Linked DNA regions of Homo sapiens: region 2 is linked to region 1. The links come from fine-mapping of genetic effects on gene expression. A gene starts in region 1. The other region holds a variant in brackets. All regions are shown on one strand. Distances are between the middles of the regions.

Region 1 (8,924 bases):
CTCATGAGGTCACTGGTGGCAACTAATAAGAATACCCCCATTACTCATTCTAAGGCTAGCTCTTAATCCTAGGCAAAATGAGACTGAGGGACAAAATGAGAATTAATCACCAGAGAGCAGATAAAGCTGATTCATTTCTGAGCTGGAATAAAATAAATACAGAAAACTTGGTTACATAAATATTAAACAATAAAACCTGGAATAGAAATCATCCTCCTTAGAAGAAGATGGAGCCTAAAAAGAAGGCATCCCTTTGAGCCCAAGGTTGCTGTTGGTGGAAGTGGCAGCCTTAGCATTCAAGAGCCAGGGAACATCAGACATTGTAAGCGTCCACAGACTTGCATGAGCTGAAGAAGACCAAGGTTCATGATCTGCTCCTTCGACACAGTGGTGACAATAGAAGAAATATCTAGTAAACCTGAAAAGCACCTCAAGAGGGACCTGGAAAACAATCTAAAAAGCCAGAGAAAGCTACAGTTGAAGGCAGTATAGAGTTAGATTCAAGATAGAATCTAATGTTCATATAGATCCTCTTGCATCATTAACAGATGTCCACACAGGACACAGGAAGTGCACGGTTTTGATTATCAGTGTATGCCAAAATAAACCAATTCCTGTATGTGGAGGACAGACAGCTGTATGAAGCAGGATCCTCAGTGTCTTCAGTTGGCTCCATTAGACCAGTGGATTCACACCTTCCGGCAGCTGCCCCATCTCGAGGGCACTGGACATGCTGGATTTGGGGAGACTGTTATGCGATCTCAAACCATTTGTAATGCTAAGTACCATATTATGGGGCCACTGCACATCCATACTTTGTGCCTATACATTGGGAGGCACTGGGCTCTGGGGAGAGACAGATGGTTTTCAAGAAAAGGCTCTTAAACCCAGAGAATGCTTCTTGTCTACAGCCACTGTCATATCATTCTGACTTCTCAGTTCCCTCACTTTCCCTCTCCTTTCAAATATTTTTACTTTCCAAATCAGACAGATGTTTTTTGCCAGTACAGAGGTATATCAGTCATCACCTTCTCTCTCGGATGTAATAAGTTGAATTGTTTGTTTTATATATTTTTGTAGCTTAGATGTTGACTTTATCTAAAGGGATATCCTGGAAACAAACATTTTAAAAATATAAGTACAGAAAGGTAAGCATGCTATTAGCAATTTTTAAAAAACTTTGCCTGTGGTTACTATCTATATATAATTTGTCCTTCTATTGTCTATCAATGCCTTCTAAATGCACCATGAGTACAGAGAAAAAAACTGTCTGTGTGCACCTGGGAGAACTTGCTTGATGCCCCGGCCTCAGTTTACCACATCTCCAAAACCAGTGGTTCTGACAGCCAGAGTATCTTCCAGGTCTAAGAGATCACAATCATGTATCTTATATAAAGACCGGAAATGCCTAGAGTGTACAGATTTTTAAAAAGTAGTATGAGCAGAACATCACATAAACAAAGCTTCAGTCACATATGAAGAAGTAGTAGGGTGGATTATTTTCAGGCAAAATGAACTGATTCCTTACAAAACAGTAATAATTATCCAAGGTAGAGAAAATAATTTTGTCTTAAAAACCAATATCTTGATTTACTTTGGAAGTTATTTTAGCTCACTTCATTTTTTAAAAAATCTATTTTTTTCAATTTGGTCTAGCAAGGTTTTATTTTAGGAATAGTGAAACTGACAGGAGGTAGTAGAAAGCCATGCATTAGTGAAACCCAGGCCCCTTACTTCCTTCATCTTTCACCTGCACATTTCTGGCACTTCCCATCTCGGAACTCTCTTGCCTGAACCACCTCTCCACACTCTTGGGAGTTAATAACTCCACGTAGACAATTTTTCCTCTGGAGGACAGAACTGCTACTTCTTCAAAGCTTTTGGGGCTCCCAGATGCTGCATAGTGGGGGTGCCTAACATTCATCTCTAAGGGTGGCTGTTTTGGCATCATTTTTGGCTGAAGTTTTGTATTGCATTTCCATGTCATTTGGTGTGGTGTGTGCCTGCCAGATATTCTGCCTGCTCTCAGCTGAAGGCCTTCCCAGATTGGGCAGCTGAATGTACTGCACAGCTGCCAAAATTCTAATTCAAGATCTAGAATTCTAACTCCTGCTCTTTAGACCCTTGTCTGGCCTTGGCCTCAGTCCCCTGCCAACTCGGTCCCTGGCTCATTATCAGGCCCACCAGGGCCCTGCCCCCACCCTCATTGGGCCCATGAAACCATTCTTGGCACCAAACTGAACTTCAAGACACAGCTGCCCCAGCCCCACCCAAGCCGAATCTCATCTCAGCAAGTTTGTCACCTTGTGAGCTGCAAGACAGAAGAGATGAGAAGAGAAAATGCCACCGGTGATGGTCAGATCATAAAACTTCCTGTAGCAACAGACATATTACATGTGCCTTTACTCTAAGCACTTACATGAAAAGCAAACAATCCCATTATTAGAAATAACACTAGACAGAGATGCATAGAGTTTATGGAGGGAGGAATACTATTTCTCCATGCATCTGCACCAGAGGGTAAGTGAAATTTGCCCTAAGGAAAAATGCTAAATTCAGTATGCATATATTAATATTAATAAAAAAAATGTACTGTTGGGTCATAAACTGCTGATAATGTGTAATATTTCTTAGACACCTGGAAAAGTGCTACTGGAAAATACACACTTTACAGAAGAAATATGACTGCAACTGGAGGAGGGGGTGGGGACAAGAAAGTAATTGATTCTCAGCAAAATGCTGGTTTTCAGGGAAGCTACTAAATTCACCTTAAGTGGTTACCTGGTCAACATTATGCTTTAAATGCTCACAGGATGAAATCGCTTCCTTTTTAAATGAAGAGTCACTATGTCCCTTGCCGTTGTTTCCGCTCCTTCTAGCCTTAACCAATGCACTGTCCTTTCTGCAGTGGCTGAAACGAGGATGGGTTAATTACCAGACCTGAGATGGTGGAGTGGGTGCAGTAGGGTGCTGTAATTTCGGGTGATGAAATTATTTTAGTTTTTGTTTTCCTAGAAGGAGCAGGGAGTATAAAAAACGTGGCACATATGTAAAACACAGGCAAATGCACTTGACAACCAAGCACTCTATTTTGAAATTTAAATAAAGCTAAGATTTTTTTCTGGCCTAGAGGGAAAGCTTCATTAAAATCAATTAGTTAGTACAAACCTCCGGAGAATGTGTACTTTTTCTAAAGAAGGTTTAAAGAAGAAGGTGCACACAATTACCTTTCCTGGGTCCCCTGTGAATGTGTCACACCTAGACAGGTGGCTGAGTACAAAAAAATGTCCCTGAGAGGGACCAGGGTAACTCCCTGAGTTCTCCTCGCAGGGAGGTAGGTGTAATTAATCGATGTGGGTGTATTAAGAACGTCATATACATAACCAAGGAGGCTCCAAACAGATGGCACGGATGGCAAGCCGTAAAGGGCAGGCCTAGCGAGATAAAGTTGGTGGCAGGGCTCGCAGGTGAGGCCTGGGTCCGCGCGCTGAGGTTGGGGCCGCACAGCTGTAGCCGCGCGCCCTGGTCCCTCCTCCCAGCTGCGGCGGCCTTCCCCCCCCGCCCCCGCCCCCGCCCTCCCCCCGCCGCTCCCGACGCCGCCGCCGCAGCCGCCGCCTCCCCTCTGCCTCCCGGTGGCTCCTCGCTCTCCTTCCATCTCTCTCGCCCCCTCTCCCTCCGTCCCGTCCTCGCCGCTCCCCTCACCCCGCCTCTCTCCCCCTCCCCCAGCCCCTCCTCTCCTCACCCCACCCGGCCTCCCTCCCTCCCTCGCCCGCCCGGCGCTCGCAGAGCCGACACCAGGGGGGCTCTCGATGTAGCACCATGACAGGCATCGCCGCCGCCTCCTTCTTCTCCAATACCTGCCGATTCGGGGGCTGCGGACTCCACTTCCCCACCCTGGCCGACCTCATCGAGCACATCGAGGACAACCACATCGGTAAATGGCCCGGGGGTGGGCGGGGGTGCCAGGCGCGCGGAAACTCCTGCCCGGGCGGGGAGCCCCGGAATGGCCAGGGGTGGCCGGCGGGGAGGGAGGCGGCAGGGCGGGGAGGGCGCGTGCGAGCCCCGAGGTGGGGGTGGCGGGATGCGGGGGCGCGAGGTGCCGGGGGGCGGGGAGCGGGCTCGGGTGGGGGAGGGGGCGGGCGCCCCGAGGTGCCGCGGGCGGGCGGGCGGGCGGCTGGGGGACTCAGGGGCGTGCACGCGGGCTGCGAAGTGGTGGGAGCGGGGAGCGCCGCGGCGGGGCGGCGGGGTTGCGGCGGCGGGGCCGAGTGCCGGCGCGCGGGGCGCGGGGCGGAGGGCGCGGCGGGCGGCGGGAGCTGGGCGCTGGGCAGGGTCGCGGAGTTAGTTGGCCCGGGTGGTCGGAGTAGCCCGAGGCGCTGAGGGCAGCGGGGGGCGGGCGCTGCACGCCGCCGGGCGCTTCCGCCCCGGCTCGAGCTGTCAGGGCTCGGCGGCGGCTGCAGCCGCGGGGAGGTGGAGCGGGGGGGCGGGGGTGGCTCCACCGCGGCAGCCATTCCGCTTCCTCCTCCCGCCGCCGCCGCCGCCACTGCGTCCTGTCAGCGCCGGTTGCTAGGTGTGGTGCGTCGGGAGGGGGCCGGGGCCGGCGGCCGCGGGCGGGGGCCGGGGAGCTTGCCCTCTCCCTGGGAGGCGGCCGAGGGGCCCGGGCGGGGCCGGGGACGCGGGCCCGGGGGCTCTGGGTGCCCTCCCCTGCCCCGGCCTGGCGCGGACGCCCGGGCGCTGCGGGCTGAGGTCTTGGGTGCGCCCGCGGGCCGCGCCCAGCGCCCCGGGGTCGACGCGCCCTGGAGGCCCCTGCGGCGGCGCCCGCTGGAGAGACACCCCCAGGGCCCATGGCCGGGCATTTAAATGCACCCCGGCTCTGCGATTTGCCTTTCTAATGGTGCTAGGCCCGAGGTGCGCTGGCTGCGCCCTGGGATCGGCGGCGGCCTGCGCAGCGCCCCGGGCCCGGGAGACGCCGGGGAGGGGGCGCCCCGCAGGGTGGCTGCTTTCCCTTCACGCCTGGACCCCTGGACCTTTCAACAAGTCCTCTGATTTGCAGAAGTCATTGCACACATTTTCACACTTCTATTCGGAACCCCTGCTAAGGGAGGTGGGCCGGGTGCATCTGGCTTAGGCGGTCCAACCACCTGCGGAAGGTGTGACCGACGCCAGCGAGTTGTCCTGCGTGGGCTAGAAGGTGAAGGGTCCGAGCGATGTCCCAATGGGGCTGTCTAATCCAGAGAACCTGTAAATTGCCCCCAGGAAGTCCAAATGAATGCCATGGATTCAGCCATGTGGATGCAGCTCACGTTTCTACAAAGTTGAGAGAATAAATCACGACTGCTGTGTATTTATGCAGGAATAAAATGAGGCAGAACCCTATGCTCCTTTGCTTAGTATAGTGCTGTCTCTGCACACAGTGGCTGCTTAATAAGTGTTGAATGCCTGTTTAGAATGTGATTTGATGGGCCATCCGGAATAGGAGATAATCATGGGAAACGTCTACAAAATGTCTTTCAGAGGAAAATGCTGTTGAGTAATTGTCCAGGTTTTGAAACTTTTCAAGTTTTCAGGCGTCCTTGTAATAGCTTCTTCCATTTCCTCTGCTAAAGGTATGACAGAAGAGCTGGGCAAGTTTTGGTAGTCTTAAAAGCAGTTTAATGGAGCAACCAATTTGCTGATTCATATCATGATTGAATAGTCATAACTGAAAGTGCTTGAAAGTATTAAATCAGATTTTTCATGATGGCTAGTTTAAAATAAAGCGAAAACACCGGTACTGTGAAGTTCTGGTAGAAATGTTACTAGTTCAAGTTCTTCCCCTTACTCCCAATAATAAGTAAAAAATAAATATAGATAATGCTATACATTAATATGTATGATATAAGTAATATAAATAAATAATTTCTCTTGACTTACAGAAGGCTGTCATTGCATATCCCATCCATTCTCGCTAACAGTTATTTCAGAATAAACTATAATTTATATAAGCTGAGTAATAATTTTACCCCATTGCCTACCTACTTAGACAAGCTGGTTAAAAGACAGTATAAATTATATTTATTAAAATGTGTTAAAGACAGTTATCCTTCTTGAGGATTTAGTTTGAGATGGTTTAAAACTTGGTGAATCATGAGGTTTTTTTTTTAAGTGTAGAAATTGTCTTAATATTTTGCACACATTTTTAAAGAAGGTTAAGAGTTTGATACGTTTTCTAAAACTCAGCTTTGAAGTAATGCTACCTCATTCCCAGAAGGCTAGTGTTGTCCTTTTAATAGTGAAAATGTGGAAAAATTAAGTTTACAGCAATAGCAGTGACCTAGGTGAACTGTGTTGCAGGGCTAACACAGTTGAAAACAGTTTGAACCAGCAAACTTTATGAAAAGCAAATGTTAAAATGAACAAACACTTGCAATTCCCAGGATGAAGAGGCTCAAACTATTATACACTTCTGCTGGGGAGAGGCCCTTTACTATCAAAGGCAGCCCTATATGCAGAAAGAAGAACTGATCTTAAGAAGAATAAAAATATCCCAATTAGTAGATAGTGTCATATAAATACACTTCTGATGAAAAGACATGGGTGAAAATATAAAGCATTTAGTCAAAGTTCTAGACAGGTATTGTTATGTGGTATTTATCGTTTTTGATTCAATCTATAAGTATTTGGAGACCGTTAATGATTGACTTACTGATTTCATGTCTGTTGGTGAGTGGTTACATTAAAAAGATTCATGAAAAGAATAAGAGGTGTGTTATTTTGCTTTTAATTTGTTCAACAGTCTTGTTATTTAGCAACCGTGAGTATTAGAGATATGCTTAGGTGAGCATTCCATTTTGGGGGCCTATCTGGGTTATTACCTTTAGCCACTAGTAAAAACCCTTAAACAGCGATAAAATGAATATTTATGGGAATATGGTGTGTTTCTTGCTTGGCAGATTTTTCAAGGCCTGTGTTTTTCATTATAAAAGTATTATGTTTAGTTTGGATTAATTAAGTGCATTAAGTTGAGAATAACTCTCTGTTATCTTATATGTGTATGCTTAACTTTTGTTTTTAACTGTTTTCCTCTCCCCATAATGAACAAGGATTTGGGGGCTTTAGAACCAAGGGAAGTGTGATTTTCACCACCCACTTTTTTAGCTCTTTTCTCTCCTGGAAGAGTGCTGTACCGGTGTTCCTGTTTTCTTTCTTGCATTTCACTGCTGGTTCAGTACTGGAGTACCTGTCTCAGTGTATACACTGAATATCCTAGCTAAAACTCTCCCCCATCCCCACTTAAATTTAAATTGCCGAGAAATCCCGTAGCCCTGCAACTGTGAAGTGCTTTTCCATCAATTTTGTTATCAATTCATTCATAGGTCTGAGTCTGTTACATGGAGATGGGAAAAGCAGGTCCAGGTTTGCTTGCTTCTTATTTTGAGTAGATAATTGAGTTTGTAGAAACATTCTTGGTATGAACATCCTAGATAGATGAAGTTAAACTGGTAACTGGGAATCTTAGAAACACCAGGAGCACTAAATTTAGCACTGAAGGTCATGTCCCAGGCTCATGAAATGCCGCTACAACCCTGCATCCCAGTGCTATGAAATCGTATGGCTTTTTGTCTGAGAAACACAACTGTTGAATCATTCTTATTTGATTATTTGGTGCATTTTTAAAAGTACCTCTGCATTTTGAATTTATTTATGTAATAATATATATTGAGTCCCTAGTTTATGCCAGGCAAAGTTATGAGCACTTGATATTTTTTGGTTAACAAAATGAAAATATCACTCTTTAGGAAGTTTATATTCTAGGATAGGGGGCCAGACAATAAACAATTGAGGTATGTGATACACAGTATGTTGGGAGGTGGTTAGTGATACAGAAAAGAGAAAAACTAGATCAGGGTCCGGAGGGTTGGGAGGAGAAAGTATGAGAATTTTAAATAGATTGGTCAGGGTGGGCCTTGCTGAGAGGCTGATATGGGAGACAAAACCTCGAAGGAGGTGTGAGAGTTAGTCATGAGGACATTCTGGGCGCAGGCAGTACACAGGCCCCAAGGCAGGCCTGCAGCACTTGAATAGAAACACAGGAATCTGACCCAATTCAGTTATTCATGTGATCGTACCAGACTAGCAGGTCATTTAGAACTTTCCTCAGATGTTAGGATCCTCAGCTTTGCTATTGAAACATTTCCCTGCAAGGGCCCAGTTAAGGGGCAGAGTCTCATTGACCAAGAATGGCTTGCATTAGCTATGACTTGGTTCCTGACCCCGAATATCAACAGGTTTCTTGTTGTGAGTCTCTACTTGTTAGTTTCCTCATCTCCAAAACCCAGGTAATAAACCTACAGTGCTTCATTTCATAGTATAGATTTATAAACCGTCTAATTAATAAAGGTCAAAGTTTCTGTAAAAAAAAATCAGGGCACTTACTATCAAAACTGTAGAATTTAGCTCCTAAGATGATTTAGTAAATATTTGCATTATCTTCTCAAAGGAGCATCACAGTGTACTAAATAGATAAGCTGTGCAATATGTCATAGGTCCTTATTACTCCCACTTTTAGGTGAGCAAACTAAGGTACAGTTTATAATTGCCTGAGCTTTCGTGGCTGATGTGTATGATTTGAGATTTGAATTCCAGACAGGTATGCAAAGCTAAGCCTATGCCAGTTGCCAATTAGGTGAAGAACGTGACAGTCCCCTCCTCACCTCCCCTCACACGATTGACTCTGTTTCCTCCTTTAGAAAGTAACTGAACTCGAGATGAAGGTCATCTGAGCAGTGGCATAGCGAATCCAGCCTGCTTGGAGTTGAACACACATGTCTGCCACTTGTCCCCCTTATGACCAGGGGCAAATTAACCGTACTATGCCTCCTCTGTAAAATGAGGATAGTAGCAGCATCCATCTCACGGAGTGGTTAGTGAGGATTAAGTGAGATAAT
Region 2 (8,924 bases), 37 kb before region 1:
CCAGTGAAACAAATCTCTTGAGAGAGATGTTATACACCTAAGAGACAGGACAAGAGCAACTCAAATTAGAGAGAAAAATAACTAGAACATCATGAGTCTTCAGGTACTAACTCACACCGAAAAGATACCAGCTATAGGGCTTTAGAAACACCCAAGATTATTTGTGTTACTGTTAGATGACTTTTTTCTCAGATTAAATTTAATTCTCTGGCGTTACCTCTTAAAACTCTTGGTTTTTCAAATTTACTCATAAACTGTAGCTGATGTCTTAAGGGGGATCAGATTAGTGAGACTAATAGTATAATCTACCTAGAGAGTTAAGTGGTTGTTTTTTAAATAAACATTCTATTTTTGCACTTTTTTAAACGTGCAGGAGGGCAGATAATTAAAAGCTCCACCCTGGCCACCTCATCAGAGGAAACCTAACCATTTCTGGGTTTAGTTCTTCCTTACATAATAAGTTTATATATTTTTTCAAAAATCTACTTGTCAATTTAAGAGATTATTGTTCAAAAGATTCAAGAATATTCAAGAGATTGCCAGAAAGGCAAAAACGTCATTCATTTTCATTATTCTTTTTCTACCCTCCTCCAAAATGTTAATGACTATCACTCTAGTTCCTTTATAGGTTACCTTCATTATATGCTTACATAGACTTCTAGTTCTTTTTCATCAGTTTTGGCCATTACCTCCTGATTCATCACTTTAATAGTTAAGTATATTAAGACCCTTTTAGAAGTGTTTCCAGCTATAGCTAATAATTCCACATCTGTCTCTTTATCCTTACTTGAAGCCACCAGTGTTCAGTGTCACCAGTGTTCACTGTCATTTCACTGGTGTTCACTGAAGTAACATCCTAAATGCTCTCCTTCAGTCCTTTCATATTTTCTAATCTAGAAACTCAAATTTGAGCGTGCATTAGAATCCCCTGGTAGGCTTGTTCAATCACAGATTGTTGCTCGCACCCCCAGTGTTCCTGACTGAGCAGATGAAGAGTAAGGCCTGAGGAGCTGCATTTCTAACAAGTTCCCAGGTGAGGCGGATGCTGCTGGTCCAGGAACACACTTTGAGAACCACTGCTCTAATCCATTCTCTGCACTGACACGAATCTCCTAAGCATTGGCATACAGACTCCTTTCTACTCTGGCACACATTGTCTTTTTAAAACAGTTTTACTGAGATAGAATACATATCATCCAATTCACCATGTAAGTGTACAATTCAATGATTTGTAGTATATTTATAGAGTTGTATATACATCACCACAATCAATTTTAGAATTCTGAAAGAAACCCTGCATCCCTTAGTCATCACCCTTAATATTTATTTTGATAATATCGAGTTCCTATTGTGTCTTATTGGTCTTTGCATCCCTAGCACTTAACACAATACCTACAGTAGGCATCAATTAGTGTTTGTCGAGTGAATGCAAAAAATGCAATCAATTCAGTTAATAAGCTGTAGCTAAGATTTTACCATATAATTAAAAAGCATAGAATATATTACAACAAAGACTGTTAGTTACCTCCTGGTAACAAGACTCCTCTTCTTAGTAACAGAACCTCAATTCACATTTGGGTACACTGCTCTCCAGCTAAAAGATCACACTTTCCATTCTTCCTTGTAGCTAGGTTGGCCATGTGACTAAGTTCTAACCAAGGAGATGGAAGTTAAAGTATTATGTAAAACATTTGAGAAGTCTTCCAAAGGGAAGGGGCAATGCCCCTTTTCAGCCTTTCCCTTCTCCTGCTGCCTGGAACTAGGATGTGATATCTGGAGCTCTAGCAGCCATATTGGACAATGAGGATAAGGAAACAGAAAGCTGGAAGAGCCTTTGACCCTGAAGACCAAGGAATTACATGCCACCTTTTACAGGAAAATACTTTTAAATCTTAAGCCTCTATTTTTGGAATTTTAATTGATTGGAGACTAATGTGATCCTCACTGATTTATCAAAGCCTATGCTGTTTCCACCACGCTACAGGATTCAAGGCACAAAAATGCCTTCTGTTATTACTGTTGAATTGAACACACTTTTTGTTGTCACCTGTTAGTGCTCCTTTGGGCATCCCTTGAATTTGGGGTCAATATCAAAGTGTTTCAGTTTGTTGGAGTAGCATTGATTCATTGAAAGAGAATAGGTAGACAGTCTTAGAGTCAATCTTGGTTCTGTCTCTTAATAAACCTTGCTGAGCCTCAACTTCTTCCACCAGAGAGTTGTAACAAGACCCTACCTGTAGGCTTGTCAGGAAGATGAAAGAAGAAAGGCATGTGACACATCCAAAGGAGTGGCTGACACATAGCACAGAATGCTTCTTCCTGCTCATGCGGGGTCTGTCTAGGGAGCTCAGGTCAGAAACGAGTTAATTTGAGACATCTTGATCATTTCACAGCATCCACAAGAAACATTAGACAATTCTGATTTAGAGGAATCTGAGCCAGATTATAAACTACACGAGGGCAGGGACTGTCTTGTTTAATGCTATATCCCTATTGTGTAGAAACAGCAGCATTCAAGGAACGTTGGCCGAATTAGTGGATAAAAGCATCTTAAGTTCTGTGACTTCAATGCCTCAGAATCAATATTTCCCTGCATGTAACAGAGACTAAGTATAGACCAGTGTTCCTTGTAAAGTGACCAATCAAACCTCTATCAGAATCTTCTGAGGCCATTGCTAGACCAGGGTCCAAAACACCCCCTACAGCTGTTTCAGGGTCCTTGAACTCTGCACCCAAAAGATGGGACATTATGCGCAACCATCATTTATAAGCATCAGGCAATGGGATGCACGTGAAAGTCACAACATGGCAAAATAGAAGCAACCAGATTAAATCAACCTTAATCCCGAGCGCTTGGGAACATTCACATTCTTTTTTTTTTTTTTTTTTTCATTTTTTTCTCCTCTTGGGAAGAGCATTGGCGGGGTGATAAATTCTGTACCCAGACCCTGACTCACCTACTCTGTTAGGAAAAAGAACTCTTCTCACCTCCAGAGCTCTTATGAGCTAACTGCTGAAAACTTTTATGAGCTTTTTTACAAAATGCAATATCCCTACAATGATTCTAGTAGCTGCCTCAGGAGAGAAGCAGCATTTTTTCCTTTTTCTTTTCTTTTTTTTTTTTTTTTGACACAGAGTCTCGCTCTGTCGTCCAGGCTGGAGTGCAGTGGTGCAATCTCGGCTCACTGCAAGCTCTGCCTGCCGGGTTCACGCCATTCTCCTGCCTCAGCCTCCCGAGTAGCTGGGACTACAGGCATGCGCCACCATGCCTGGCTAATTTTTTGTATTTTCAGTAGAGATGGGGTTTCAAAGGTTTAACTGAAGCGCCATGCAATCCCCTTGGAAATTCCCTCTTCAAGTCTGTAAAATAAGCAGGAAACAAATACAAGCGTCTCAAACTTCAGATACTCATTTTGAGAAACAGGTGCAAGCCTTGTGGCCCTCATATCCAAGAAAAGCATCAGTGTTGATCCACCAGCAATTTTCAGGAAGCAGATTTTGCAAAGGAGATCAACTCTGTGTGTGTAAAAAGATTTGGAGCCCAAACCATAAGAAGTTATGGAAGAAAGGAAAGAATATGGCATTTCTCTCCCAGGCAGGGCATTTCCTATCCTAGTCAAGCTCAAGGATCCCCAGGGCACCAACTCACCACCCTGCCCTTCTTTACTTTCTTACCTTCCTGGGCTTCTGTCCATCTTTAAAACTTTAAAGGAGTAAAGTACTAATAGATGCTATAACATGAAAGCCTTGAAAACACTACGCTGAGTGAAAGAAACCAGGCACAAAGGGCCACATACTGTATGATTCCATTTACATAAAGTATCTAGAATAGGCAAATCTATAAAGACAGAAGATGGATTAGTTGCTCCTTAGGGGTGGAGTGGAGGGATAGAGGAATAGGGGATCATAGCTAAAACGAATGAATTTTCTTTTTTGAGGCGATGAGAATGTTCTAAGATTTACCATGGGGATGCTTGCACAACTCTGTGAAGATACGAAAAACCATGCAATTGTACACTTTGAATGGGTGAATTGTATGTTATATGAATTATATCCCAATAAAGCTCTTACCAAGAAAAATCCTTTTATGACTAGTTTTAAAGCACATTATGCTTTATGTAAAATTTTACCTAACTGTTATTGCAAGGCCATTCCAGAAAGGACACTGTGGATGAGCGGGGCAAGTGAATGTATTTAATTGACGTCATTCAGAGCTTCCCAAGAAGTACTCCAAAGGACAGCATGTTTTCAGCTGTTAATAGGTGAAATAATTGTTTTAAAAGGCTCCACAGTCAAGGAAATTTAAGAACAACAAAGTTAAATTTCAACAGGATCTCTACTGCTGGAGCACTCAGAGATTTAATAGGCAGACATGCATTGTGCATCTCCAAGAAGAGGATTTACCAAACCGGTTTAATCTTGAAGCCTTTTGTCACAGAGCATGGTGCAGAGTCAGTCTTCCATGACATGTATGCTGGTAAATGCATTTACTTTAATCTCAACAGGAACCCCTGGAAACAAACGTTATGCAAAAATTAACATAGGTCCTCATACAATGGTAACATTTTCATTTACATGTCTGCGTCTGATTTTAAAAGTTCACTTATAAACATTGTTTTTGCTTTCTAAATTCTTTTCATTCTATATTTAATATATGTAAACATAAGGAGTGTGATTTAGAGTAGAAATTCTCTTTTTCGCTAAGTAATAAGAGATTTTCTGGTATAACTTGGCTTGCTTCTATGAAGTGGAGTTTGCTTTATGTTTGTTTTATTTTTCTCCTGAAATAGAAAGGCATTCTAAGAACATATAAAAATCCTCAGTAATCCTTCTGTCCCTGGCCCATAGATCAAATCGTTCTCTCAGAATTCCACTCAACTGCATTTCTCAGCAAAGATGTATTGGCAAGCTAAATGGAGAGGTTTCAAATTACTCAGGCTTTATTAATTTTACAAAATATGCTTTGAAGTATTATAATAAATAATTAAAAGTAAATAGCACTTTTGAGATTAGTGAGCAGATGCTTGCAGGCATTACTGTTTCTTTCCTACCCTGTTCTCCACTTGCAGTGCCACAGAAAAGACAATCCATTGCTGCATCTTCCTCCCATCACTGCATCACGGCTTGAGTTC[C/T]ATTGCCCAGACGTATTGAGAAATAACAATTCAAGAAGGGAGGGAAGGAGACTAATAACTACTGAGCATAAAAACTGGATAGATAGAATGACAAGAAAAAGTACTCTCAGCCGGGGAAGGCGCCAGGTTGAGAAACTTCAGGTACTCATCTAAAGTGTGACACCTATCAGTAACTCTGTTTGGCAACTAATATTAAGAATTGTTTGCAGTGGGCTTTGCACTTTACAAAGCACCATCAGATGCAATATCTTAACCTTCAAAACAATTGTGAGAGGTAGCTCCTTTTTCCCTGTTTTACAGATGGAGAAATTGGGGCCCAGAGAAATTAAGAAACAGGCCTAAGATTCTCAGATAGAATACTGTGGAACAGCAATTTGACTCTGAGGCTTCTGAATTCAAAATGTACTCTCTTTCCACCTTCACTCAGCTGGGAGAAGTTAGAAAGGCAGGCTGGGAAGAGATTGCAAAGGTCTTTGAATAACAGAGAAGTTTATCCTTTACCTTGCAGGCACTATAATTATTATCTAAAGGCATACAGCTACAACATGCTTAGGCAAATAGATTAGCCATTTCTGATTATCTTAAGAAAATTTCCCAGTGTATTTAACCTGTAAATGAGTTCAAACAATCATTTTTGAAAAGCATCAAATGTTTACTTGCTTCTTGTTGTTGTTTATTTTGCCATTTTTGTGGGTTTTGTTTGTTTGTTTTTGGTTTTGTTGTTTTTGAGACAGGATCTCACTCTGTCACCCAGGCTGGAGTGCGTTGGCACAATCTCAGTTCACTGCAGCCTCAACCTCCTGGGCTCAAGTGATCTTCTCGTCTCAGTCCCCTGAGTAGCTGGGACCATAAGTGTGCCACCACGCTGGCTAATTTTTGTAAATATTTTTTGTAGAGACAGGGTTTTGCCATGTTTCTCAGGCTGGTCTGGAACTCCTAAGTTCAAGCCATCTGCCTTCCTCAGCCTCCCAAAATGCTGGGATTACAGGCATGAGCCACTGCACCTAGCCTACTTTCTGCTTTTACTCCATCTTACAAATGTTCATTGTGTACATAGTCCGGGATCATTTTAAAAGAGGTCCATATCTATCAGTTATTCATAAAGGATCCAAATAAACTAATTTCCTAACCCTATGTCTGTCCTTCCAAGCTTTACACTGGAACAGGAAGCAATATAAAGAAAGTTCTAAATCCAATATTATGTATTAATTATTCAATGCACATTAATTGAGCATTTACTATGTGTTAGGTAGGCATCTATGTCAGGGACTGTGCATTCAAAAAATGAAGACCACATGTCCCTACCATTATAGAGCTTACAGCTAAATATAGCAAAGCATCCAGGCAAACAGAGCACAGTGTGATAAAGAATAAAACAGAAGTCCGGATGCGGTGGCTCACACCTGTAATCCTAGCACTTTGGGAGGTCAAGCCAGGTGGATTGCCTGAGCTCAGGAGACCAGCCTGGGCAACGTGGTAAAACCCTGTCTCTACTAAAATACAAAAAAATTAGCAGGGCATGGTGTCATACGCCTGTAGTCCCAGCTACTTGGGAGGCTGAGGCAGGAGAATTGCTTGAACCTGGGAGGCGAAGGTTGCAGTAAGCTGAGATCGTGCTCCTGCACTCCAGCATGGGCTACAGAGCGAGACTCCATCTCCAAAGAGAATAAGACAGAAAGCATAGAGAGACATAGGAGCACATCACTAGACTTAGGAGTTGGTGAGGTTTCCTTGAGGAAGTGACATGCAGGCTGAAGGACCAGTGGGAGTACAATGGTGTCAGGGCTAGAAGCAGAGATTCCAAGCCTGACTTTTGCATTAGATTCACCTGGAGAGTTTTAAAAACTACTGCTGTCTAGACCCCACCCAGGCCAATTCCATCTGAATCTCCAAGAACAAGGTTCATTCAGGCAGCAATTTTTATAAATCTCCACAAGTGATTCTAATGTGCAGCCCTATTCTAGAATCAGTGACTTCAATCTTTACTAAAAAGTGTTTCAGAGTGGAAACGATGTGAACCATCTCTAAATTCAGATTTCAGTTCCATGTAAAGTCAAAGTAAATAATTTTCAGATGATTTTCTTGGTATCTATAATGTGACCTTTATCTTAATTATCTTGGGTTTCAAGAATATTTATGGCAAAGGGGACATGATAAAATTTTTTTACAAAAAAAAAAAGATGACTCTGAATAGTCTCAATATTGCTAGCTTTTCCTAACAGTTGGGAGAAAACAGCTTTTGTGGTAACTATCCCTGTGCTTACCAGCATTTTCTGTTCTGCTACTATGGGCAGTGGGAAGACTATTCTTCCTTGCCCCTTTAAAATTATGAGTGGTCACCTGACTCTTTAGCCAATAAATAGTGAGCAGAATTGATGTGTGTCTCTTCCATGAGGAAGTATGTAAGAGCTGGTCACATGTTCTCTTCCCCCACCTCAGTGATCCCTGAAGGCTTGGATGGCAATGGTAACATCTTAAGACAGAGGGATGATGAGGTCAAAGCACACTGGAGCGCTGAGCACCCCACAGAGAGCACTTACCTTGCAGAGCCACTCATGACATGCATTGTTTTAAACCACTAAGATTTTAGGGTCTTTATCACCTAAAATTCAGTTTATTACTGCAGCACAACCTAGTCTCACCTAGTAACTACCTTCTCAACCAGGCAGATCCCTAAGTTTGTATTTTCTTTCCCTAATTCATGAATTTTCTACTCACATGCTTTTCCATGATCAATATTAACAATTAATATCCATCCTTCCTTCTTTATTTTTATTCTCTCTTCTTTTCCTCCTCCTTTTCTCACTACTTTTTTCTTTCCTTTCTACTTAATCACTCATTTTAAAAATCACTGGAGATGCCCAAGAAGAAGGAAAGTTAGAAAGTAGTTGAGTGGGTGGTGGCCCAGCAGGCTGAAGGATTTGTTGCATACAGGGGGACTGAACAAATAAATACAGTCGGCCCTCCCTAGCTATAGATTCCACATCTGTGAATTCAACCAACTGTACATCAAAAATATTTTTTAAACAACATCTGCACTGAACATGTGCAGACTTTTTTCCTTGTCATTATTCCCCAAATAATATAGTAAAACAAGTATTTACATAGCATTTACATTGTATTTAGTATTATGAGTAATCTTGAGATGATTTAAAGTATTCAGACAGGCTGGTCATGATGGCTCATGTCTGTAATCCCAGCACTTTGGGAGGCTGAGAGGGGAGGATTGCTTGAGGCCAGGAGTTTGAGACCAGCCTGGGCAACATAGTGAGATGCCATCTCTATAAAAAATTTAGACAATTAACTGTGTATGGTGGCACATGCCTGTAGTCCTAGCTACTCAGCAGGCTGAAGTGGGAGGACTGCTTGAGTTCCAGAGGTTGAGATGGCAGTGAGGCATGCTTGCACCACTGCAATCCAGCCTGAGCAACAGAGAGAGACCGTGTCTCCAAAATAATTTTTTAAGTATTCAGGAGGATATGATTAGGTTATATGCAAATACTATGCCATTTTAGATCAGGGACTTTAGCATCTGCAGATTGTGGTATCCTTGGGACGGCCTAAAACCAATCTCCCCATGGATATGAAGGGATAACTGTATATTGAGGATTATGCAGCCGGGTTCCTTTGCTGCCTGATAAGAGAATTTTAAATATGAAAAGGTGAAACGATTGTGTTTGAATTGAAGTGGAGGAACTGCTATAAACTTATATATATATATATAATTAGATAGATATAAAAATGAATCTAGATGTTTCAATGTTCTGTCCTTGTTCTGTCCACTGAGAGATC

The links. PIP is the estimated chance that this variant, and not a neighbour inherited with it, causes the effect.
Region 2: its variant is fine-mapped to the expression of JAZF1 in whole blood (INTERVAL, PIP 0.97).

What each region holds. Positions count from the first base shown.
Region 1 is chr7:28,175,473-28,184,396 of GRCh38, reverse strand. JAZF1 (JAZF zinc finger 1) reads left to right here and starts at 3,602. Exons shown (of 5, transcript NM_175061.4): 1 at 3,602-3,934. The coding sequence starts at 3,820. It overlaps JAZF1-AS1 (JAZF1 antisense RNA 1), which reads right to left and starts at 3,940. Exons shown (of 4, transcript NR_034097.1): 1 at 3,858-3,940. RefSeq lists a silencer at 4,408-4,527 and enhancers at 4,382-4,881, 4,882-5,383.
Region 2 is chr7:28,212,830-28,221,753 of GRCh38, reverse strand. JAZF1-AS1 (JAZF1 antisense RNA 1) reads right to left here. Exons shown (of 4, transcript NR_034097.1): 3 at 4,405-4,511. Among named protein-coding and RNA genes, the nearest start is that of JAZF1, 36 kb to the right of the region's middle. The variant C/T (reference allele first, on the strand shown) is at 5,133.